Homo sapiens: one gene and its partners. The protein of the gene in region 1 interacts with the protein of each later gene in a pairwise test. Each region holds a gene or a part of one and is shown in the gene's direction. Other genes may lie near its edges. The genes, in order: GLUL, RHOJ, RBBP6 and TAT.

Region 1 (7,991 bases):
TGTTTGTTTCCTGTTAAAATTTGGCGAGTCAATGTGAAATAAACAGGGATCCAAATTAACTAATGAGGTGGGAGGGGAGGGAGGAAGGGCTGTGGATCCCATTGAGGATTTCTTTGGGAATGGTACCAACTAAAGCACATACTCTGATCTAAATAATTTTTTGATCAGAATGCTAAATTCTCTAAATTTTTTAATTAGCTTCAATAATGTTCCAATCAATCTACAGAACAACGATCTGTACAGTGTAAATTGAGAATAAAGGACAAAATGTATCTAAAAAAACCCGATTCACAAAACAATGAAACTGGAGGCAGATTATCAGATGTGAAAAATGATCTCCAAAGAGTCCTTCAAAGAGAATCTTTCCTATGGTGTTGTTTTTTTCTGCTAATCTAGTTATTCACAAAGAAAATATATATTGAGTGTCTGCTATACAGAAGTCACTGGGTAAGCATACCCAGGATTGAGAGGTAAATGGTTGCTCCCTGTCCTCTGCACCTCCCTCAGTGAGGACTGTAGGAATTTCAGTATTTTAGAGATGGTGGCCCCGGAACAGATCACCCACAGACCAAAGCGACTAAAGGAAAGGGAACAGAAAAAGAACAGCACCTTGAAAGCTCATTAAGCTCTAAAATACTAACCAAACATGACTTCATCAAGTTACTATGAGTTATCTAAGCCTCAGTTCCTCATCTTTAAGATAGAATGATGTGAAGATCTAATTCTAGAATTGTATGGCTTTAATTTTCTCAATAGGACATTTTCCCCAGGTTGTTAACTAAGATGAACTTGATTCTTCCCAACTTTCCACGTAGTTTCCTGCTAGAGACATGATTCAGGGTAGAGCTCAAACAGACCCAAACCTTCCATCATAACACGCAGTTGGGGAAATGAAGTGTTCCTTGTATTTGACTGATTTCAGCACGCATCCTACAAAACTCAAATCAGGCTACAGATATGGCTGAGACGTGAATTTCCAATTTCCTGTCTTGAACTGAAGAATATCAAACAATCAAAAACTGTAAAGAACAATTCCTCCATTCTTAGTGCTAGTTATTGAACTGAAGTATAATGTAAATGTAGTCTTTCCTTCTCTAATTGTATAAAGTGAAATTTGAAAGCTTGGCCAACTACAGCTTTTCCCTAAATTATGGTTTAAGAATAATGCTATCAACTTCCAGAGCTATTTCTTTTCTTCTTCATTTTTATTATTATTATTTTGATTTGGTTTAAGATTCTACTATGGTCCATTCTTTTGGAAAGAACTGATGTTGGTTTATTACATAATAATAATTTTTAAAAGAATATTTTACAATTCTGGGTTGGGTTTCCAGGGTGTTCCCCAACCCTGAGTCTCAATTGTATCTCTTTAACATGATTTAAAGGTCTCACTGAATGCCTATTGAAATCATTCATACACAGGGAAAACTCCATTTCCTAAACAGAAAAGGTTTGGTCAATGTGAGCCCTACCCTAAATTTTGTGTCTAATGTGTATAAGGCAACCACACAGGCCCTGGGAAGGCACTCCAGATCCCCAGGTAAAGGACTTCATACTTGCAGAGTGAGAATGGATCCTTTAAAAGACAGAGAAAGGGCCGGGCACAGTGGCTCACGCCTGTAATCGCAGCACTTTGGGAGGCCGAGGCAGGCGGATCACAAGGTCAGGAGTTCAAGACAAGTCTGGCCAATATGGTGAAACCTCGTCTCTACTAAAAATACCAAAAAATTAGCTGGGTGTGGTGGCACACGCCTGTAATCCCAGCTCCTTGGGAGGCTGAGGCAGGAGAATTGCTTGAACCCGGGAGGCAGAGGTTACAGTGAGTGGAGGTTGCAGTGAGCCGAGATTGCGCCACTGCATCCAGCCTGAGCAACAGAGTAAGACTCCGTCTCAAAAAAAAAAAAAAAAAAAAAAAAAAAAAAGAGAAAAGTTGTTTCCTAATAGAGATAAGATTTGGGAGTAGAGCAAAATCCTAATACAAAGCTTTTATTTCAGGCAGCAGAACAACATTGAAGAAATACTTTTAATCTCAGGCTATTTCTGCAGATTTGGAACAAAATCTTTCCCTGTAATTGCTCTCCCACTCCACCCACCCCTTGGACATGGCAATTCTACTCTAAGAGAGAAAAATATGACTTCAAAGCACATGCAATGGAACCCCTTGTCAGCACTGATATGGTGTGTACCAAGAAACAGAAAAGTTCATGGGTTCAAGCATTCTAATGCTCTTTTTATGGTGGGGGTGAAGAATGGGGGCGGGTGGCAATTTAGGGAAGAAGGGGAAGGAGAAGAAAGGGCAGCAGACACAGCAAAGTCAAACTGGATGAAACAGGCTGTTTTACTTTTAACTTCTCTAAAAGTACAGTCTGGGTTTCTGCGGGTGAACCAGTTAAGGGTTTTCTTCTGCTTTTACTTCTCGCCTATGCTCAAGCCTCCCTGGTCAGTTCTTGGACTCATCTGCGCCCTAATTTCATCATTTTAAGTAAATGTGGGGCTGGCCAAGGAGGACAAGGCCTCTTGTTCACTCCTGAAAGAGTCAGTGGTCATGTATTATGTTCCTAACCCTTACAAAGCGTGCCCCTGGTCACATGAATGGATCAAAGCAAATCCATTTCCATTCTTGGAAAAGCAGCTCAAAGCACATGTTCTCTTGATGGTGCTGCTGTCACTTCTGTGTGGTTAACAAATATCATTTATTGAACACTCACCGTGGACACTACTGGGGGATATGACAATGAATAAACTGCTCAATGAGGTCAAGACATCTAGGAAGGGAAGCAGGCACTCAAATGGCAGAAATACCATAAGCCTGCAGAACCGCACTCACGCCTTACCATTCCGTTCTCTGTTATGTTTGTCATCCCCACCTCAGGGGCTGGTGGTGTGTGCAGCAGAGGCTCTGGCTTATGGTTCGGTAGTTTGGTATCTGGAAATGATTAATAACATCTTTTAAAATAAAAATATCACTTTTCTCCTCCTTTGCTCCCCTTCCTCGACCATTTAAACTCAAACCTTTACAGAAAGAGATGAAGACAGCTCACTGTGTTACCAAGGTTAAGTCCAGTTTGATATAATGAATGGTAAAGCATTACACTGAGTCAGAAAAGTTGTATTCAAAAGTCGCTATGGGGAAAGAAAGAATCCAATCACCTCAGATTATAGAACTTGGCCTATGATAATTATAATTGCTGTTTTCTAAACATTTACGATGCACCAAGGACTACTCAATCTCTTCTGCATGTGCTATCACAATTAATCCTTTTATGAGGTAAAAATGATTATCCCTCTTTTATTATAGACAAAGAAACAGGCTTCATGTGGCTAAGTGATTTGGCCAACACAAAGCTGGTATGAAGGGAAAGCCCAGATTTGAACCTAGGTTTACCTGACTTGCAGCCGTGCCTTTAGCCACCACAATGTAATGCTTCAAGGGGCAGCACTGAAATTTAACAAGGAATTTGTAAGGCACCTTACCCAATCCAAAATGTCACCAGTCTGAAACATCCCAAAAAACCCTGTTTGAGATGAATGCTGCATCTGTCATGTAAAAGCACTACAGTGTTATACACTCTTAAAGGAAAGGGATGTTGACCAAAGAAGCCAAGTTATGTGTGTGTGGTTGCAGGCAACATTTCTTTTCCACATTTGCGGTACAAAACATAACCAGAACAAACTTCTTCCCTTCCTCTTCCAAAGGCACTGGAAGCATAAATTCTTGCTCTTTAAACTGAAAGAAGCAATAAAATCTGGACACCATCAGGTAGATTTCAGGCACTAAAAATAGAATGATCGAGTAATAGTACGGATAGCAGTATCTACCTACCTACCTACCTACCTACCTATGTTGTGTCTCTAGGTACATTTCAATATTGTGTTCACATACACATTTTCCCAACCATCACGGCAAGCTGAGAGGAGAGGTATGTATTCCCATTTTCCAGATTAACAAGAAGCCGCACTTGATAAAGCAAAATCAGGGAGAATTCGTTAAAGGAATTTCTTGACAATCCCTGGACTTCAAAGGGGGCAAGTGAACACCTCGATTTCCTTTCAGCTGCTCCGGGGGCAGTTTGCACACAGAATTTCAAATCTAGTGGGCGGCTCCACAGGTCATTTTCGATGACCACTTTATTTTGCAGATGAGGAAACTTGGGCCCTGAAAGACCTGCCTAGGGTCTGGCCAGCAGTATGAGACAGGTCTCCAGACTTAGTTTCTACCGCCCTCCAGAATCCTCTCTGTAAAATTAGAGAAACAGCACGTTGATTTCAAATGTGAAATGGCAGAGTTCTGTTTATTTCCCCAGACCCAAGAGAGCCGGAGCGGGCGGCTCTTCCAGGCCTTGGGAACCCCGGCCTGTCCCCAGGCCCGCGCGGCACCCGCCCTAGCCCAGGCCCGCCCAAAGTTCCCTCGGGTCCCGCGCCCCGCGCTCCCTCTCAAGCTAACCCCTGCCCGCAGGAAGCGGGGCTCGGAGGCTCCCTCGCAACAAAAGGCTAAATTCGGTTTCCCTGGTTCCGCATTTCCCCAGGGAGCTCTCCTCGTAAAACTATTCCCCGTGAAGGCGGCAGGGCAGAGGTCCAGGGCGGGCTTTGCTGGGAGCCTCGGGACCCCGGGTTGGGGGCCGTGGGGCGGCACCTGGCGAGCTGGCGGGTGGGCGGCGAGCCGAGGCTTCCCGGCCTGGCGGCAACTCGCCCCTCTGCCCTCAGCCCTCCCGGCTCCGCTCCCTTCCCCCACGCCGCCCTGCCCCTCCCCCACGCCCCTTTCTCTTTCTTTCTTTCTTTCCCAGTTCGCTTGCCCCCACCCCAGCGGCGCCCGCCGGGCTCCTCGCCCAATGGCCGCGGGGCCCGGGACCGCATCAGCTGATCGGCCCGGGCTCCTGGCCGCTGGGAGCCAATCAGGGCACCGGGGGCGGCCCCGGGCCGCGGATAAAGGGTGCGGGGCTGCTGGCGGCTCTGCAGAGTCGAGAGTGGGAGAAGAGCGGAGCGTGTGAGCAGTACTGCGGCCTCCTCTCCTCTCCTAACCTCGCTCTCGCGGCCTAGCTTTACCCGCCCGCCTGCTCGGCGACCAGGTAAGCCCCCGGACGGCCCGGTGTCACGCAAGCGAGGCGCGCCGCCCCTGCTACCCCGCGAGGCGCGCCGCCCAGCCTCTTTTTTCGGCTGCCTGCCCCTCCAGTCCCAGCCCTACGCTGCGGCCTCTCCGGCCCATGCCTGAGATCCGGCATGAGTGCTCCTCCCGCGTGCTTCCGCCGCTGGTGGCTTGGACCCGTCGGGGCTGGCGCTGGTGGGGCGCGCCCTTGGCCAGGCTCTGGGAAGGGCGGGGTGAGTTGTTTTGATCTTCTTTTCACTACTTGCGGCCGAAGCGCCGCCCCTGGAGGCCGTTGGGCCGGCCTGCGCCCTGGGGCTCGCAGTGGTTTGTTTGCGCTGTGGATGGAGTGGCGGTGCGGTCCCCTGTGGAGCGCAAACAAGGCGCTTGGTTGGCGCGGGCGCCTGGCTGCCTTCCTCGTGGTGGGGCCTTCGGAGCAATCGTCCTGGTTCTGGCGATGGTTGAGACGCCTCGATTGCGGCGTGTAACGGTGAGCGTTGTTTGGGCGGCCGGCTCCCGCCTCGGGGTCCCGGGGGCCTTCCAATGTGACCGAACAATGGAGAGCCCGGGCCTCGGCGCAGTCAGTGGAGAAGCCGGTCCGGGCGGAGGCAGCAGCAGCGCGCAGTCCCTACGGCCTGCGCCCCCACCCTCCCCCGGACCCCCCAACCCCTCGGCGGCAGGGTATGGCCACCTCCGTGAGGCCCTGAGATTCGGACGGGGGCCCGAGGGGCAGGGCGCCCACTTTAGGGACATTTCAGTGGGAAGGGGCTGCTCTCAAAGTGGATAATTATAACTCCCTCGGGGGCGGGAAGCGGGGATCCTCCCCCAGCCGCAAGTCCACGAAGAAAGCAACGAATGAAAATTATGAAGACAACGAGAAGTCAGACTCCTCCGGGTCGCGCTCCAGCTGCTTCGGCTTCGTCGCCTACTCTGTGAACTCCGGGGAGAGATCTCGAGTCAAGATTAAGACCTTAACCCACCAACCTGCCTGTTCGGACACCCCCCGGGCCGGCCGCTGTCTGTCCCCTTCTCCATCGCCCTCTCCCAGAAAGCTCCGGTGCTTGGACCAGCTAGAGTCTGAGAAAGAGGAGAGGCGCGAACGCCACTCCAAAAAGAGAAGGGTTAAAGAGGGCAACCCTAACGATACGCTTGACTTTCTGTGGCTGGGGTGAGTGAGGGGGCAGGGAGGACGACCCCGGAGTTGGTGGGAGCTGCAGAAACTGCTGAAAACTTCAGAATCCATTTCCCCCACGTAAACTTGGCACCGCAGCAGCAGCAGTTGATAGAGTGGCACTAGGCTGCTGGCATGCAACTCGGCTCACGGAAAAGAGCAAGAGATCCGAAACTGAGGCTTAGGACAAAGTGTGCATGATATTGGTGGTGTAACATGTTGGAGAGGACAGCCGAGAAATTGGGTTGTAGGTTTTTTTTTTTTGTTTTCCGACAGAGTCTCTATCTGTTACCCAGGTTGGAGTGCAGTGGTGCAATCTCCCGGCTCACTGCAACCTCTGCCTCTGGGGTTCAGGCGATTCTCCTGTGTCAGCCTCCCGAGTAGCTGGGATTACAGGCGTGCACAACCACGCCCGGCTAATTTTTGTATTTTTAGTAGAGACGGGAGTTTCATCGTGTTGGCCAGGCTGGTCTCGAACTTTGTACCTCAGGTGATCTGCCCGCTTCGGTGGGTTGTAGCTTTTAGCGGGAGCTAAAGGGTTCTGGGATGGAGGTGGGAAGTAGGATTTGGCCGGCTGAGTCTTCTAGAGGCAATATTGGGGTGTTGGTCTTCCCCAAGGGGAAGGGTGGTGAGGCTGAGGGAGAAGCAGTTATGTTTTCAGCTGGGCAAACATGGACGGTTGCCCGTAGAAACTTTGCCACTGTACTTCAGAACGTTGCCCTAGTCGTTGGAGGAGAACAATGTGTTCCCTTTCTAGCCACCCTGGTCCACGGAGGGAGGAGGGAGAGAGAGAATGTTTCCTCTTCGGCTGTTGTGGCTTGAGAGTTTCTCTTCTTTCGGAGGTTTTGTGGTAGTGGCTGGCAGTTATTAGTATGCCTCATGGCTTTTAAATTTCCAGATCTTTTTGATTTAGAAGTGGAAATTTCCTAATTACTTGACAAGTCTTGTAGAATTCCATAATGTTGTGATTCTTGCCCACTATCTTAAGTGAGACTTTGCATGAGACCTATGGAAATTATGGCAGCATTCCCCTTAGAATCTGGCTTGAATCAGCTTTTGTGTAGGAAACTGCTAGCCTTCTAAAAAAATATATTGTAACCTTGTTTCATCCTCAAATCTAAATGTGTAATGAGTTTTCTTTTGGTGGGGAGGGGCGGTGGGTTTGAGTTAAGACCACAGCTAGGATGAAAGACAAAGAGAAAAACAAACTGTGGAAGCCAAGCCTGTTCTGTGGCTGGATTTTACTTATATTGGAAGAAGTTCTATGTTTTGTAAATTTGTGTATTGGTTTTGATTTGTTTCCTCTGATAGTTTAGTATTTGGATAGTTTAGTGTTAACCTCAGCTACACTGAAGGAATAGACCTTAGTCCTCACAAGTATAAGTTCTAGCTTGGAAGCCTGGGTTCTGCAGTAGCTGTGGAACTTAAGCCTGTGAGCTCAGGGATGCAGAGGCATTGAGTTACTACCAAGGGCCTGATCTTTTCTTTAGCAGGCATCTGTGTTAATTGTTTCAAAAGGTGGTGATCAGTTTTACAGCCTATTATAAAGGAGATTTTTGCCTACTATAAAACTAATCCCCCTGAAAGAGTGAGTAAACATAACTTTTTGTGTGTTGACTTCCACAAGGGAAGGAGTTGGCACTTACACTCTGACTTTTGATTCAGTCGTCCTTCTTGAGCCATTTTTGCAGGGGATCAGTTTGGAGTGGGCGTTAACAATGTTATTCTTTTTTTCTTCTC
Region 2 (2,603 bases), on another chromosome or scaffold:
CTTGATGTCTTTTATAAAACTTGGGACTACAATACTAACCTTTTTTTCTGAATCTGCTGTTCTACCCATGTGTCTCACATTCATTTGTATTATTTCAAGAAATGTACTAATTTCCAGTTCACTCAGGCCTTACTAATCCATACCAAATTAGCCTAAAGACAAGGCATTTTATATTCATTTCTATTTTCAGCATGTTTCTACCAAAGCTATTAGAACCAACACGTACCTCTGAATGCCCGATTATAAGAAGACATGAGAAGACTTTAAAAGTTTTGGAAATTTACAGAGCCATGATTTTTGAACCTAATTGAAAGAAAACCATCTGAATTGTTGCAGGTCCACATTTTTGCCAAAGATACACTCTATAGATGCTTAGTAGTGGCCTGATTTTTTTCCATGTATTGCCACGACAAACTAAAAATGAACTGTGTTTAAGAATGTAGTATTTCTGTTTTTCATCCAAGTTGATTGGGGGAAGAATATGGCAGGATCCATCTTTTACAGTATTTTGTATTCAGTAAAGTGGACATTCCTGCTCCTCCCTTCCCCCATTGCATGCCCTCTTCCTCCCTTGATTTCACTTTCTCTCATGCCCGGATCCTTTTATTCTCCCCAGTTATAACCCAGTTATAAAAGAAAGATCTGAGCATAAAGATACGTGTTTAAAAATAACTAAAAGTAAAGGAAAGTGCCTTAATTTTTCTATTTGCTTCAACTGAAAGTGCTTCTCAGCTCGCCCCATGTAAGTTCTCATTCCATGTAAATGACATTTTCCAGTTACAACTGGTACTGAGATTTTGCCTCTCTCTTTCCTTACTCATCCTCCCAAATGTCTTTGTGGGAGCCATATCAGTGGATACCAAGCTCTGTATCCATTTGTCCCCTGCCCTCCACAATGTGTGACATAGAACAGGGACTTTGGCCCTGGGAAAGCAAAAGCTCCCAGTAAGGAATCCTGTGCCCAATGATGTAAAACAATTCCAAACATCCAGGAATTTTTGTATCATAGAGCGAATTACTTCCTATCTTTTCATTAGAGGCTATGAGGACTTCTAATTAGTCTTAGTTGCTTATAAGTGCCCTGGAATCACCCAGGTAGGCACTTAATTTTTTTTTCAGTTGCATGAGCAAAGTGCTTCTTAGTAGTGTGAAATTACAACAACTTTAAGACTTTCCAGATTCAAGCTCCCACTGTTGGAAAAAGCCAGCCTTTCTAATCTCTTCTGCTACTGGAATAAGCACTTAAGAATTGCGTGATAGCCAGGCACCGTGGCTCATGCCTGTAATCCCAACACTTAGGGAGGCTGAGGTGGGTGGGCCGCTTGAGCTCAGGAGTTCAAGACCAGCCTGGGTAATATAGTGAGATCCTGTGTCTCTATAAAAAAATTAAAAATTAGTCAGTTGTAGTGACACATACCTGTAGTCCCAGCTACTCAGGAGGCTGAGGTGGAAGGATCACTTGAGCCCAGAAGGTAAGGCTGCAGTGAGCTGTGACTGTGCCACTACACTCCAGCCTGAGTGACAGAGAAAGAACCTGTCAAAAAAAAAAAAAAAACAACCTACATTTCAAGTACTATTTCCCTTCTCTCCCATCTAATTGCTAAAGATTTTCTTTCATACGCACACACTCCAGTGACTGGAAAAACGGGAGTTTTCAGTCAAAGCTTGACATTTAGAGAAAACAAGGACTTTCTGCCTTTATAAATGGAAATCAACTGTGTATGAACTATAACTCTGCAGAGGTTATGAATTCATCCTTTACAAACAATAATGAACTTTTAGTCCTGTAATAAATGAAATGTTATTAGGCAGCTTTGTTGCATGATTGCATAGTTATATCTTGCTAACGGGCCACTCATTTCTCACTGATGTGGATGAAAAAATGAGAGCAGTATGTTTCCAGGTGTGTGCACTCAACAGGCAAATAGCTCCCGAGGTCACCACTTCCCTAATGGGCCACAGGAAGTAAGTTGATCTTGATGGGGAGATCACGTCACCCAGAACCAGCAACTGGATAGAGACTGTTGTTAGTGTCTGGGTAGAGCACAGGCTCCCAGGGGTCTTAAGAGCTAATTACTGAATAAAACAATCTAGAACAAAGCAACCTAAATAAGTTGATGTCATTCTGCCAAATTAATCAGTTATTCCTTGTTTCACGGCAAGATCCAGTTTGTTTCACTAAAAAGTGTTTTCTGCTATAAGATTAAACTGTCTTCTGAAACCAAAGATAAGAAGAGACATAGAGGCCCGGCGCAGTGGCTCACGCCTGTAATCCCAGCACTTTGGGAGGCCAAGGCTGGCAGATCACCAGGTCAGGAGATCAAGACCATCCTGGCTAACACAGTGAAACCCCATCTCTACTAAAAATACAGAAAAAATAGCTGGGCGTGGTGGCGGGCACCTGTACTCCCAGCTACTCGGGAGGCTGAGGCAGGAGAATGGCGTGAACCCAGGAGGCGGAGCTTTCAGTGAGCCGAGACCGCACCACTGCACTCCCGCCTGGGCGAAACAGCGAGACTCTATCTCCAAAAAAAAGAAGAGACATAGAAATTTGAAGAAGGATCCTTTAATGGTCTACACCGTCTTCCAAAGTCAAGAAGTGG
Region 3 (7,037 bases), on another chromosome or scaffold:
TGAGCGATTCTCATGCCTCAGCCTCCCAAGTAGCTGGGACTACAGGCATGCGCCACTACACCCAGCTAATTTTTTTTTGTATTTTTAGTAGAGATGGGGTTTTGTCTTGCTGGCCAGGCTGGTCTCGAACTCTTGGCCTCAAGTGATCCACCCACCTGGGTCTCCCAAAGGGCTGGGATTACAGGCATGTGAATGCAACTTTAGACTGGGTAAGTTATAGTTAAAAGAATCCTGTCCGGAAATTTAAGAGTTTTGTGACTTTGTGTAACCAATTTTTTTTTCCTAGCCCAGGAAATAAATGATACGTAATTCAAACCCAGAAAGCCAGGAATGTGTTTTTGCCCAGCACATTTTCTTTTTTATATTTATGTGAACTGCCCTTTATTGGAGAAAGCTTTGATGTTCGGTTTGTTAAGAAAAGGGAGCTTTGAGGGAGAAAATGTGTATTTTATGCAGTCCTCAAATTAAGAGAGAAAGAGATATTGATGGTAGCTACTTAACTAGTTTTATGGGAAATAGTATCCAATGTCACAAGGCAGTTGAGTAGAATGCCATTTGGTTTTAGCACCGATATTCAACATATTTACTAAAGAAAACTATGGTAATCTTTTTATCACAGTTAAGGTCCAGTTTCTTAATTTCATTCTTATAATTTTAAAATCCCTAATCTACCATGTTTCTGTAAAACATTTCCTTACAGTTTTGGAATTATGTGCATGTTTAGGTCCCTTAAATCTTTTTTTTTTTTTTTTTTGGAGACACATCCTCACAGGCTAGAGTATAATGGCACAATTTTGGCTCATTGCAGCTTCAACCTACCAGGCCCAGGTGATCCTCCCACCTCAGCCTCCCAAGTAGCTGGACTACAGCCACACACCACCATGCCTGGCTAATTTATTGTAATTTTTTTTTATTTTATTTTGGTAGAGATGGGGATTTTGCCATGTTGCCCAGGCTGGTCTCCTGAGCCCAAGTGTTCTCCTGCCTTGGCCTCCCAAGGCCATCCCAAAGTGCTGGGATTATAGGCTTGAGCCACTGTGCCTGGCATAGGACCCTTAAATCTTGATAAGACTGAAACGCTTGGGTCAGAATTCCATGGATTTTAGACAAGAATCCTGCTTGTTTCTAGACTGTATTTCAAAATGAATATCAAGTAATCTTTGTTATATATGAGAAACTTTTCTGCACACCGACCCCTAAAAAACAAAACATCCTTCGTTCTGAAATTAAAGTGTGAGAGGTTTGGAAGCTGAATATGAAGTGTTTATAAATGACCCTTGTCACCTTTCTTACTCTCCATTTCTCGGATTCATTCTGTTTTTCATTTCATCCATGCCTTTCATGTCTGGGGTCAAAAAAACTGGCAAGCAGAAAGGGTCTTTTGAAGCCAACAGACTACTTGTTAAGGAGGTATTTTAAATGAAATACCCCCAAAGTGTCTTTATTACCCCTAGAAAGATACTTTGAGGGGTAAGAAATCATTGTAATTCAGGTATTTAAAAAGTCAGTTAGAACATCTGTTTTGAAGGGCATTGAGGCACCTTTTAGTTTGACACAGTACGGTGCTAATCAAATTAATAAGCTGTCTTGGAAAGCTCTTGTGAGTGCATTGAGTTGTTACATATTCAGAAACTTCCTGTCAGGTGTTTGACACAAAGTTTTATTTCTAGAATTAACTTTTAAAAAAATCTAGTCACCCCATGCTCTCAGTTTTTCTGACTCAAAGCTTCCTCGGAATTTGGGGCTATCATGAACTGTCCAAGATAAAGATTATAGTCCTACATTGGCATGCCTAAATCTAGGAAATTGCCTACCTCTAATTGAATGCCTGTGAGATAGTGCCTTCTACTTGAAGTATATAGAAAATAACCCTTGCCTGAACAATTTCATTTCTAACAATACTATTAGCATTATGACTAAAAATAATTAATATACATTAAAAGCCGAATATGCCTACATATGTGGTAAGCGTAATAATCGGAAGAACAGAGATAGTCACTTTGTGCAGAGTAACTTTAAGTGAAGCAAGTAAACTTAATGACAATAAAAAGGCCTGGTTGTGTGATTAAAGGAGATGGATACATTTTTGCATCTCTAGGTAATTTTTCTTTTTGGTAATTTTACAGATTCTTTCTGTAGCAAATCTTTTTACCATAGTTAAGGTCCATTTTCTTAATTTCATTCTTATACAAGTATTGCAAATAGCCCAAGGAGTGTAAAAATAGGATCCATTCTTCTCCCTCTTGGTTTTCCCAGAAGGTGACATCACTGTTTATCCGATGACTGAAGCCAGGAACCCAGGGATTCCTCTGGCCTGATTCCTCTTTCTTCTTCATTTCCTTCATCTCCCCCATATTCGGTCCATCAGCAAGCTTTGTCAATCCTACCTGCAAACATTCTGTCTTTATTTCTCACATCATAACACAGGTCGTCATTATCTCTACCTGGATTTTTTAGCAGCCTGGTTATTAGTCCCCTGGTTTCTACTCTTGTTCTCCTACAGTTTGTGCTCCACATTGGTGCCACAGTAGTCTTTTTTTGAGACAGAGTCTTGCTCTGTCACCAGGCTGGAGTGCAGTGGCGCGATCTCGGCTCACTGCAGCCTCCCAGGTTCATGCCATTCTCCTGCCTCAGCCTCCTGAGTAGCTGGGACTACAGGCGCCCACCACCAAACCTTCCTAATTTTTTTGTATTTTTAGTAGAGATGGGGTTTCACCGTGTTAGCCAGGATGGTCTTAATCTCCTGACCTCGTGATCCGCCCCCCTCAGCCTCCCAAAATGCTGGTATTACAGGCGTGAACCACCGCGCCTGGCCAGTAGTCTTTTTTTCTTTAACAAAAAGCAAATAATCACTTTGCTTAAAATCCTTCAGTGTCTTCCTGTTGCACTTCAAAACAAAATATAAATCAGTGTATGGTCTATACCTTTCTGTCATTCTTTTCTTTTATTTTCTTAGGCTCTTCAAGCCGTTTCGTATCATTTTTCTACATGCTTTTTTTATCCTTTGCCTGAAATAGTCCTCAACCAGTTTTTTTCCTGTATCTGGCTGGGTTCTCAGTCTTTAAGTATCCAGTAGAAGTTCCTCCAAGGGGCTTTCTTGGAATCAACATTCTATCTGAAGTTGTATTCCACTATTCATTCCTTATTAGAAAACCATTTTCTCTTTATTCATAACGTCATAATTTAATTTTTAGTCTATCTTCCTCAGTAATAATTTCTGTGAATGCAGGGATTGTAATACTCAACTAACGTTTAGGGACTAGGAGAGACAGAATATCTTCATTCCGAATAACGGCTTTTTCACCATTCACATGTTCAGCATTTCAGACTAAACTAAAGAATGACGGTGTTACTGAGATTTGGAGTTCCACAAAAGTAGAAGTGCTAGAGCCAAGAACCTGCTGATGATATTGGTTGTCCTTTGAAAAGAAGCCCTCTTAGGGCTTTGGATGTTTGTTCTGACAATATCAGTAATCTAGTTGCAAGGAACTTGTAGTTATTATATTTAAAGTCATTTCCCATGAAATTTATATTTGAAGTTTTCTAATTCTTGGTTACGCACTCAAATCCCCAAATGGAAATTCAATTCTGTCTTTTTATTTACAGAATATACTGATGATAATGCTCTGATTCCTAAGAATTCTTCTGTAATTGTTAGAAGAATTCCTATTGGAGGTGTTAAATCTACAAGCAAGACATATGTTATGTAAGTATCAAATCTCATGTATTTCTCAAAATAGACTTTTTTTAGTTTTTTTAATTTTGTGAGAAAAAACTGTATTTTAGAACTGAACTCATTACTTTAACCTTAATGAATACATCTTCTCAAGACTGTGAGGATAGTAGGTTTCTTTGTTCGTTTGTTTTTGATTTCCTCCCCCAGTTAAATTGACTTAGCCTGTTGTGAGAGGGCCATTATTAGGAAAAATTTTTCTCCATATGGCCAGTATTTACAGATACAAGAAAGTGATATTCACATTATTTCTGTGCCTTTCTTTGACTACTTTTTTTTGTGGGGGTTCCTTCAGTTTTCTTCACTACAAAAATTTGGTGTTGTAGACATCGGTCCTAAATATTTTGACAGCATCAAGAGTATTCAGTAATGCTAACATTTACTCTTTATCAATAAGGGGCTTTGGCTGAGAGGCATAAAGTATATAGGATTTATAATCATGGGCACTGAAATCAGGCTTAGATTTGACTCCATTTACTGCTTCATACCAGTTGTGTGACTTTGGACCTTGGGTAAGTCTCTGTGCCTCAGATTCCTCAAAAATAAAATAGGGACGTGAGTACTTAACTCTAGAGGGTTGTAAGAATTAAATAGTGTCTGGCACATGCTAAATGCACATTATTGGAGTAGGAAGAGAGCAGTCTCACAACTAGTCCGGAGCTGGTATTCACTAACCTGGGGCAGGATTAAAACCTTATATCCTTAACTTTCTCTGCTTTCTTGCAATTTCAGTAGTGATAGCAGAACTATAATATGTGAAAAGGGCAGCAACATAGGTTATTTAAAGAGTAGTGATTTTCACTTAGAATTAGGTAGTATTGTTTGAAATTGGAACAAATTATTTTGAGTCAATGAAAAATTCTAGAATTTGCCAGTGCTAGGGAATGGAAAGTGTTCTTGAAATTAAGGTAAAAATAAAGTCATTTCTTGGAGCTTTACCTCATATGGGCAAGTATTCTAAGATTTTTCTCATTAGTTTGTTGTAAAGTTATATTCCATATCTTAACACTTAGAGGTCCTTTTGTGCAGTATCTTCCATATAATAGCTACTTTAAAAAGCTGAATACTTTCCTTGTTGTAATTGCCAAGTGAACTTTTAATGGTGTGTGTTCTTAACTTTAAATGATTCTAAGAATTATATATATATGTGTGTATATATATATATTGTTTTGTTTTGTTTTGTTTTTTCCTGAGATGGAGTCTCACTCTGTTGCCCAGCCTGGAGTGCAGTGGCACAATCTTGGCTCACTGTAGCCTCCGGGCTCAAGCGATTCTCCTGCCTCAGCCTCCCAAGTAGCCAGGATTATGGGTGCCCACCACCAAGCCTGGCCAATTTTTGGATTTTTAGTAGAGACTGGGTTTCACCATGTTGGCCCGGCTGGTTTCAAACTCCTGACCTCAGGTGATCCACCCAACTTGGCCTCCCAAAGTACTGAGATTACAGGCGTGAGCCACCGCACCCAGCCTAAGAATTATAAATTTATGGGGAGAATTAATTCCTACAATCCAGTGTGAAATTTTACTTTAATTTACCAAGTGCTTTTTAAAAAATGGCAAATGTATTTTCTGTAGATTTTTTGATAGAAACTCTTAAGAATTATTTGAAGTACATGGCAAAATAAGTTGCCTCTTACACAGAATTATATGTTAATGTACAATATATAGGGTTCTGTTTGTAATAAATTTGCCTCATAAAATGCATCTCAGTTTTTTTTTGAGCAAATACTAGAAAATCAAAGCTCAGTTTTTTTTTTATCTCAAATTCCAAATTATACACACACCTAGAAACTCCTGTTAGATGCTAACATTTCTCTATAGTCAAGATACCTTAAACTTTAAGCATTAAAAGGCTATAATCTAGCAACTCAACTTCTTCCCCTTTCCTGTGTGGATTAAAATAATTTCTTTTGGGGTTTATGTCTTTTAAACATCAAATTGTCCAGTTCTACACAGCCATTTAAGTCAGTTCTTTTAACTAAAATACTCTGATTATATTGTGTTTTTCTGGGAGTGAGAATTTTTGTTCAGTTTTTTTTTTTTTTCTGTTTTTAAGAGATGGGGTCACTATGTTACAGCCCAGGTTAGTCTCAAACTCCTGGGCTCAAGTGATCCTCTCACCTTGGCCTCTTGTTCAATCCTTGATTGTTGTTTTGAGACATTTGAAAAATGAAAATAGCTATCAGCCTGGCCCTCCAGATTTGAAAATTAGTTTTGGGAGCACAGCAATTTCTCAGGGATTCAAATTACAAATGTTAACAACAGCAGTCTTCCTGATGTGTGAAAATTTACGCATTCAGAAACTGGGAAATTATATAATTTAAAATTTTCAGTTTATTAAGAATAAACTACGTTTCTAAACATAAAATCCCTATACTACCTTTCAGAAAACATTTGTTTTAAGTGGCAGGGTACACCTATTTTTGAATTCCCTAGTATGGAATTTTTTTCCAAACCACAAATCTATCTTAAAACTGCTCAAAGGTGGTAAAGATTAATCAGAGTAATTTATTCATTCAGAAATTGGCTGTTAAATATTTATACCAAAGGAAAATTAGGTTCCTAAAAATGTATTATTGAAGATAATGTGTTAAAATTTATTAGCACAAAAATTCATAAATAGCTAATGTTAATTTTTGTTTTTATTTTGTGTTTTAGAAGTCGAACTGAACCAGCGATGGCAACTACAAAAGCAGTATGTAAAAACACAATCTCACACTTTTTCTACACATTGCTTTTACCTTTATAATGTAGCAGTGAAGTAAATCATTTTAGAACTTAATATCCAACTGATCATAGTACATATTGTAAATAAAATGTATTTTGATGACAGCTCAGTTGAATATGGATAATATGTGGCATCACTTGCACACTTATTTTGTAGAAATGGGTAATTTGTGCCCGTAACACTGTTTCATATTAAATATGATAGCATTATCCCTGTATGACACTGTGTTGTACAGTTAATGTATGATCCTTTTTAGATCGTTTAGGTTTTACACTAAGGAACATGATGACATGTTCTACATTTGTCTGTCTATAGTTAGTATTTTGTATGTATGTACAGGCTGTTGTGTGCTTTTTGTTTCTTGCAATAAAAAATGTTTGGAGTGTATATTTTGCCATTTTCACGTTGTATCACTTAGTTTTTGTTAGTTTTTTTTTTCCTGCCTGATTTATGGCTTCCAAAAACGCATTAGCAACATGCAAAGCTTATATTAAAGTTTGATGCTTTCTCCAAGTTCAAACACATCATAGAAAAGAGCTTTCCAGAGACCATTGATGCAGCTTTATTATTTAGTCTTGC
Region 4 (7,129 bases), on another chromosome or scaffold:
AATAATCTAAGTCTCCTGGTTTAATGTCCAGTTGGAGACAGGACACCAATCTTACAGGCTGTGTAAATGTGGGAGGGGGAGTTGGATCCGTGTCTCCTTGAAAATCTGAACCTTGAGGCCAGGTGCAGTGGCTCACGCCTGTAATCCCAGCACTTTGGGAGGCCGAGGCGGGAGGATCACTTGATGTCAGGAGTTCAAGACCAGCCTGGCCAATATGGTGAAACCCCGTCTCTACTAAAAATACAAAAATTAGCCGGATGTGGTAGTGTGTGCCTGTAGTCCCAGCTACTCGGGAGGCTGAGGCAGGAGAATGGCATGAACCCGGGAGGCGGAGGTTGCCGTGAACTGAGATAGCGTCGTTGCACTCCAGCTTGGGTGAGGAGGGTGAGACTCCGTCTCAAAAAAAAGAAAAGAAAATCTGAACCTTGAGTGACAGAAATCAGTCATAGTAGCCTTCTCACATTGAGAAAAATCTGATTCTTACTTGATCTCTTTTAAAGACCAGTGGTCTCAACCTCTGACAAAGATTCTCTGATTGACCAGACTTTTGTCAGGCTTCTGGATCTTCTTCTAAGCCCATCTGCACTTCCTTGCAAGATCCAGTTTTAGCAAAGAACCCTGAGTCATTTTGGCAAGATTTCCCACCCTGCATATCTGACCAGGTTCCTCATTCTTTGCCGTCCCCCAGGGAATGTTTGGTCACCATGGCCTGTCTTCAGCAGGATGACACTGACACTGGCCTTCTAGGTCAGTTTAGCAGAATCCCCCTTACTCCTGATGATTCCTCTTACTTTTTCCATCCTTGGCTATAAATCCACACTTGCCATCACCATATTTGGAGTTGAATCCAATTTCTCTTCCCCACTGGAAAATCCATTGCAGTGGGCCGTCTAGCTATTGGAATGGTCCTGAATAAAGTCTGCCTTACCATGCTTTAACAAGTGTTATTGAATAATTTTTTTTAACACCTCTGAGTCTCTGTCCACCTGGAGAACCACTACAGTAACACTCAGTGAGGTACCTGTGTCATCTCTCAAGCACAGTATATTGTCATGACAGGTAGTCTGAACTCCAAGAGGTTGTTCAAATTAAACATATTTGCATTGCTTTCGTCTTTGTATAGTCCGTAATTGAAACTATCCCTCAAATAACAGGATATGCATAAAAGTTCTCTATCAATCATGAATGTACAAGGACATTCGATATGCTTTATTTTTTATTTTATTTATTTATTTATTGAGACAGAGTCTGGCTCTGTCGCCCAGGCTGGAGTGCAGTGGCGCGACCTCAGTTCACTGCAAGCTCCACCTCCCGGATTCATGCCATTCTCCTCCCTCAGCCTCCCGAGTAGCTGGGACTACAGGCACCCGCCACCAGGCTGGGCTAACTTTTGTATTTTTAGCGGAGATGGGGTTTCACGGTGTTAGCCAGGATGGTCTCCATCTCCTGACCTCGTGATCCGCCTGCCTCAGCAACCCCAAAGTGCTGGGATTATAGGCGTGAGCCACCACACCAGGCTATTTATTTTTATTTTTTATTTTTTGAGACGGAGTCTCACTCTGTCGCCCAGACTGGAGTGCAGTGGCACGATCTCGGCTCACCACAACCTCCACCTCCTGGGTTCAAGCGATTCTCCTGCCTCAGCCTCCTGAGTTGCTGGGATTACAGGTGTGCACCACTGTGCCTGGCTAATTGTTGTATTTTTAGTAGAGATGGGGTTTTGCCATGTTGGCCAGGTTGGTCTTGAACTCCTGATCTCAGATGATCTGCCTGCCTTGGCCTCCAAAGTGCTGGGGTTACAGGCATGAGCTGCCACGCCCAGCCCACACATTATTAAGATTTTAAAAAAAGCAAGCTACAGAACAGCCCTGTCCAATAGACAGAATGCAAGCCACATAGTGACTTCAAATTTCCTAATAGAAATATTTTAAGATATAAAAACAAATAGGTGAAATTAATTTTAAGAATGTATTTTATTTTACTCAGCACACCATGTATTTTATTATCATATATTTTATTATATATTTTATTATATATATACGGTGTACTGAGTAAAATAAAATACATTTTATATATATATATACATATATATATATATATATATATTTTTTTTTTTTTTTTTTTCTGAGGCAAGGTCTCATTCTGTCACCCAGGCTGGAGTGCAATGGCATGATCACAGCTCTCTGCAGCCTTGACCTCCTGGGTTCAGGTGATCTTCCTACCTCAGCCTCCCAAGTAGCTGGGACTATAGGCTCATGCCACCATGCCTGGCTAGTTTTTGTATCTTTTTGTATAGACGGGGTTTCACTATGTTGCCCAAGCTGGTCTTGAATTCCTTAGCTCAAGTGATCCATCCACCTTGGCCTCCCGAAAGGCTGGGATTACCAAAGGTGTGAGCCACCATGCCCAGCCCCAAAATATTCTTTAAACATGTAATCATACAAAATTATATGAGATATTAACATTCTTTTTTTATACTAAGTCTTCAAAACCTGATGTGTATTTTACAACACATCTTAATTCAGACCAGTCACATTTCAAGTATTCAACGGCCACTTATGACTAGTAGCTACAATATTAGACAGTGCAACTATAGACCACGTTTACTCTCCATTTTTTTAGCAACTCCCAAACCAGCTTTATACGTATTGTAATAAACATAGAAAACATTTGGAAGGGTACACAAGAAATGACTAAAAATGATTTTTTTATATAAAATGAGAATGCAGGGAGGGAAGGTGATCAGGGTTTAATTCACGTACATCTCTATTTGAATTTATTATATAAGGATATATCATATTTACTAAAAATGTAAAAGAGAAATGCTTATTCTTTGCAACACAGTCCTTGTATAGAAATCTGTCTTAAGGAAATAATCAAATATGTAAACTAACATTTATGACAAGGATGCCCTTGGCCCAAGACGTGAATAATTTTTTCTAGTGTATCCATGCTATAGACGTTACCTGCCATTACTGTATAAGAAAAAACATAGTGTACCTAGGGCTCAGTACTACCCATGGTTTCAGACATCCATAATTTCAGGCATCCACTGGAGGTCTTGGAGTGTGCTCCCTGTGGATAAGGGGGGACTACTGTATTCAACCCCACTGGAGGCTTGACTCCCTGAAAAGTGAATGGAGAAGAACAAACTGATGTGAAAAATCTTTGTCTTCCAACAAATAAACAGACAGGATCTGAGCCCTGGGGAGATCACTGAGGCTTCTCTTAACCCTTCAGTGGGTGGTATTTTCCATCTGCTCACAGGAATGTTGAGATTTTGGCTGTGGACCTTGTGTTTTGCTTAGCAAAGTTGTTTTGTGTGGATCGCACCTGACATTTTAAATTCTTCCAACAACCATAGGAGGTAAATGAAGAATTCATGCACAGTGCAAGGATAAAACTGCACAGGTTTCAGCTGCCTTGGACACCCTGTGCTTTTCAGCTATTTGTTGAATGGAACTTAAGTGCCCAATTTGTTCTGATTGGAGCAAAACTTTGTGGACTGACAAGGATGGGCGTCCAAGATGTAGGAAGTTAAAAAAAAAATGTTGCCAAACAAGGTGTAGAGCACGATCCTATCTGTGTTTTGAAATCTATGAAATTATGTATCTATGCACCTATATGTAATGTATCTATCTCTGAATGGAGGGAAAGAGCCTGACCATTACCACCCTCTACCCCTGGGAGTGAGAATGAAGTGTACAGGGAGCAGGTGCAAGGAAGAATGCTCACTTCTTACTTTATATATTTCTGTACTGTTAAAATTTTAACAGGCTGTTTTGTAAAAAAAATTTAATAAAAGCTATCAACTGTAACCAGAAGTACTTTCTGACAGTAGATGTTCTCAAACCATCTCACCAAGTGCCCAGAAAGAGTTAACACAGGAGAATTCCAGATGTTTGAAGTGAGGACAAATTCCTGCTTTGAGGGTGGGAGGTGGGCTTAGGGATGAGAGGCAATGACGGGGGAGAGGAGGAAAGAAGCTGAGGGGAGAGCTGGCTGCTGAGTTGTCATTCCAACCAATGGCATGAAAGTTTCAAGCCCAACGCCCATTTGTGGAGACTATTTCAGGAGTTAGGATTTGCATCTGAGTTCATTGCCCCTGTAACCTGTCAAAGAAGAGCTAAGGGAGCTTTCGGGGTTGGCTTCTTGGAGGCTGCTTTCTCCTTTACTTGGAAGGTAAAAATCTCAAGCCCAAGCTGATCAGGCAGTGGTGACTGATTGAGCTGTTAATTTTTTTCTTTTTGGTGTATTGATTTCTTTTTCCAGCTAGGGCTGTAACATGCTTATGGGATAAGGTTTTACTTTTACTAACAATGATATTTACATGGAACTTCTAACAAGATGGAGTGGTTCTTCCTGGTCCTCTGCAGATGACAAGAAGCATTAGGTAGATTTTCTTGGATAGGCTCGCATGGAAAGGAAGGAGAACCTATGCTTTGACTGATGAACAATTTTCATCTTATTCCTTCTTGGTTTCACATAGAGCATGGTTAAGCTTTGACAGGAATTGCAGATGCGTGTAGCAAATCCTACTTAAGTAGAATGGGTTCTTGCTTTATTTTCCATCTCAGTAAAAACTCTTAAAACTCCCCCATTCATAGTAAAGCTACTTTACAACAGAAAGTAGAAAAAAAAATAAAGAGAGAGTTTGGAAAGACACTTTTAGTGAAGTCACCCAATGTTTAGGTCCAAATGTAGCTCCTCTGTCCCCCAGCGCTATGTTATCAACATCACAGGGAACTTCTTTCCCCTCGCAGGCTTCGCTAGTGATGGACCCATACATGATTCAGATGAGCAGCAAAGGCAACCTCCCCTCAATTCTGGACGTGCATGTCAACGTTGGTGGGAGAAGCTCTGTGCCGGGAAAAATGAAAGGCAGAAAGGCCAGGTGGTCTGTGAGGCCCTCAGACATGGCCAAGAAAACTTTCAACCCCATCCGAGCCATTGTGGACAACATGAAGGTGAAACCAAATCCAAACAAAACCATGATTTCCCTGTCCATTGGTGAGTTGGGGACACTACTGAGGGGCTGTCATTGTCCTCCTCTACTCTCATGTTCACAGGCTGGTTGGAGAAGATGGCAGTTGGGGGTGAGTCTGAGTACTGAACATGGGAGAATAACCTCTTGGCTCCTTTTGTGTTTTCCTCCCATAAAAAGGGGACCCTACTGTGTTTGGAAACCTGCCTACAGACCCTGAAGTTACCCAGGCAATGAAAGATGCCCTGGACTCGGGCAAATATAATGGCTATGCCCCATCCATCGGTAAGCTCCTCCTGAGACTCCATACCTGGTGACTGCCAAATCTTTAGTGCTCTTATAACAGGACTAAATGTCTAGCAATCCTCTTCACTTTCCTGATGCACAATTCCTAAGGAGAGGCTAAGATTACATGGTCCTTTGGATTTGGGAACCGGGTCTCGGGATGCTTAAATACAAGGCATCAAGGTCCAACTTCTTTCCTGGCTTTCTTTGACATATGGGCACTTCCCCTCTAGGCTCCCAAACATACTTATTTGTCAAGTAAAGCTCCTATCCTATCATTACTAATTCTAATCTGAAGGCCTTGAGTCTGGCAGGAGCTTTGTGTTTGCTGAGCCTCTAGGTCCTAAATGGATTTACTTATTGCTCTGTGTATATAGCTCCTTTGCTTCATTTCTGCTTCTCTATGTATTGAAGGCCTATTTTCATTATGGTCCTGAGCACATTGAAATGCAATTGTTACCGTTTATGACTAACGGGTTTAAACAAACAAATAAACAAACACCCAAGAACAACAAAAAATGGGCTGTCAAACTGAAGGATAGAAGGTTGTTTCTGATAGATTGAAATTACTCCTTTTTAGGTTTCTCTCCATCTATTAAAAATTTCTACCCTGAATATTTTGGTAAAGTACATGATTCCTTGACTTTCAGTATTGAACATTTTTTTTCCTTATGTGTACATAGAAACACATTCTTAATGCAGAATAAAACCCCAGTTTCATGATAAAATCAAATTTTAAAAACACTTTAAAGAGTTATATCGGGGACTTCGTGGTTTTTCGGTTGATTACTTACATTTTATAAAGTTTCATACAACAAAAATAAAAGCAAAATCAAGACCAAAAGTTGTTATAAAAAAAGTTTCTAATGACTTTAACATCCAAATATTAGGAAACTGATTTAACCTGAAAAACCAAAACCAAGTCTCCATTTGACAAATGTTCAAAGGTTCTGAACATTTCATTTCAAAGGAGATACAGGTGTTAATATATGTCTAAAAAAGTGTTCTTCCTCATTAGTAATTAAGGAAGTGCTGATTTGTATAACTTTGAGACACCCATCTATACCTATTAAATTAGTAAACATTATGAAATAGTGCCTCTAGCCTTGCTAAGTTGTCTTTTTGAACATAAATTTTGCAAAATATTATGATGGGCATGAAACTGCTGATACTTCAAGCTTGTAAGCCAACATTTGGAAATATTGTACAAAAATAATTTGAAATAAAAATTTGTACAAAAATACTGATAAGAATATTACATAACATAAAAAACTTAAAATGGACCACATGAATTGAATGCACTGATTACAACTTCTTTTTTTTTTTTTTTTTTTTTTTTTGAGACGAAGTTTTCGCTCTTGTTGCCCAGGCGGAGTGCAGTGGCATGATCTTGGCTCACCGCAACCTCCGCCTCCCGGGTTCAAGTGATTCTCCTGTCTCAGCCTCCTGAGTAGCTCGGATTACAGGCACGCGCCACAATGCCCAGCTAATTTTTGTATTTTTAGTAGAGATGAGATTTCTCCATGTTGGTCAGACTGGTCTCAATCTCCCGACCTCAGGTGATCCACCCACCTTGGCCTCCCAAAGTGCTGGGATTACAGGCGTGAGCCACCGCGCCTGGCGATTACAACTTCTTAAAAAATACAGTCCCTAAAAAAGATTTGGGAATAATAGAAATCCTTGTATTACACAGAATAAAATATAATCACAGAAATCAAGATGGTGCAGAGTATTTGGGGAGCTCTTCCTTGTTATCATTTATACATTCGTGCTTATACTAAAATTGTAAAACATAAAATGTGAAGTGAATCTCCTTTATCCACAATGGCTGAGAGCTGAACTAAATAGAATGCCCTCTGA

What was found.
Region 2: the proteins of GLUL (region 1) and RHOJ interact in a protein complementation assay, tested with the Homo sapiens proteins (one study listed by IntAct).
Region 3: the proteins of GLUL (region 1) and RBBP6 interact in a two-hybrid assay, tested with the Homo sapiens proteins (one study listed by BioGRID and IntAct).
Region 4: the proteins of GLUL (region 1) and TAT interact in binary tests that used the Homo sapiens proteins (3 or more experiments, as listed by UniProt).

What each region holds. Positions count from the first base shown.
Region 1 is NC_000001.11:182,388,754-182,396,744, reverse strand, and holds the start of GLUL (glutamine synthetase), read left to right. Parts: upstream 1-4,954; 5' UTR 4,955-5,066; intron 5,067-5,403; exon of another isoform or gene 5,404-5,570; intron 5,571-5,892; exon of another isoform or gene 5,893-6,248; intron 6,249-7,991. UniProt on the Homo sapiens protein: Glutamine synthetase that catalyzes the ATP-dependent conversion of glutamate and ammonia to glutamine.
Region 2 is NC_000014.9:63,291,409-63,294,011, forward strand, and holds the end of RHOJ (rho-related GTP-binding protein RhoJ), read left to right. Parts: 3' UTR 1-2,100; downstream 2,101-2,603.
Region 3 is NC_000016.10:24,542,557-24,549,593, forward strand, and holds part of RBBP6 (E3 ubiquitin-protein ligase RBBP6), read left to right. Parts: intron 1-3,606; coding exon 3,607-3,706; intron 3,707-6,388; coding exon 6,389-6,425; coding exon of another isoform or gene 6,426-6,479; exon of another isoform or gene 6,480-6,845; intron 6,846-7,037. UniProt on the Homo sapiens protein: E3 ubiquitin-protein ligase which promotes ubiquitination of YBX1, leading to its degradation by the proteasome.
Region 4 is NC_000016.10:71,574,062-71,581,190, reverse strand, and holds the start of TAT (tyrosine aminotransferase), read left to right. Parts: upstream 1-4,098; 5' UTR 4,099-4,182; intron 4,183-4,763; 5' UTR 4,764-4,775; coding exon 4,776-5,010; intron 5,011-5,164; coding exon 5,165-5,269; intron 5,270-7,129. UniProt on the Homo sapiens protein: Transaminase involved in tyrosine breakdown. Converts tyrosine to p-hydroxyphenylpyruvate. Can catalyze the reverse reaction, using glutamic acid, with 2-oxoglutarate as cosubstrate (in vitro).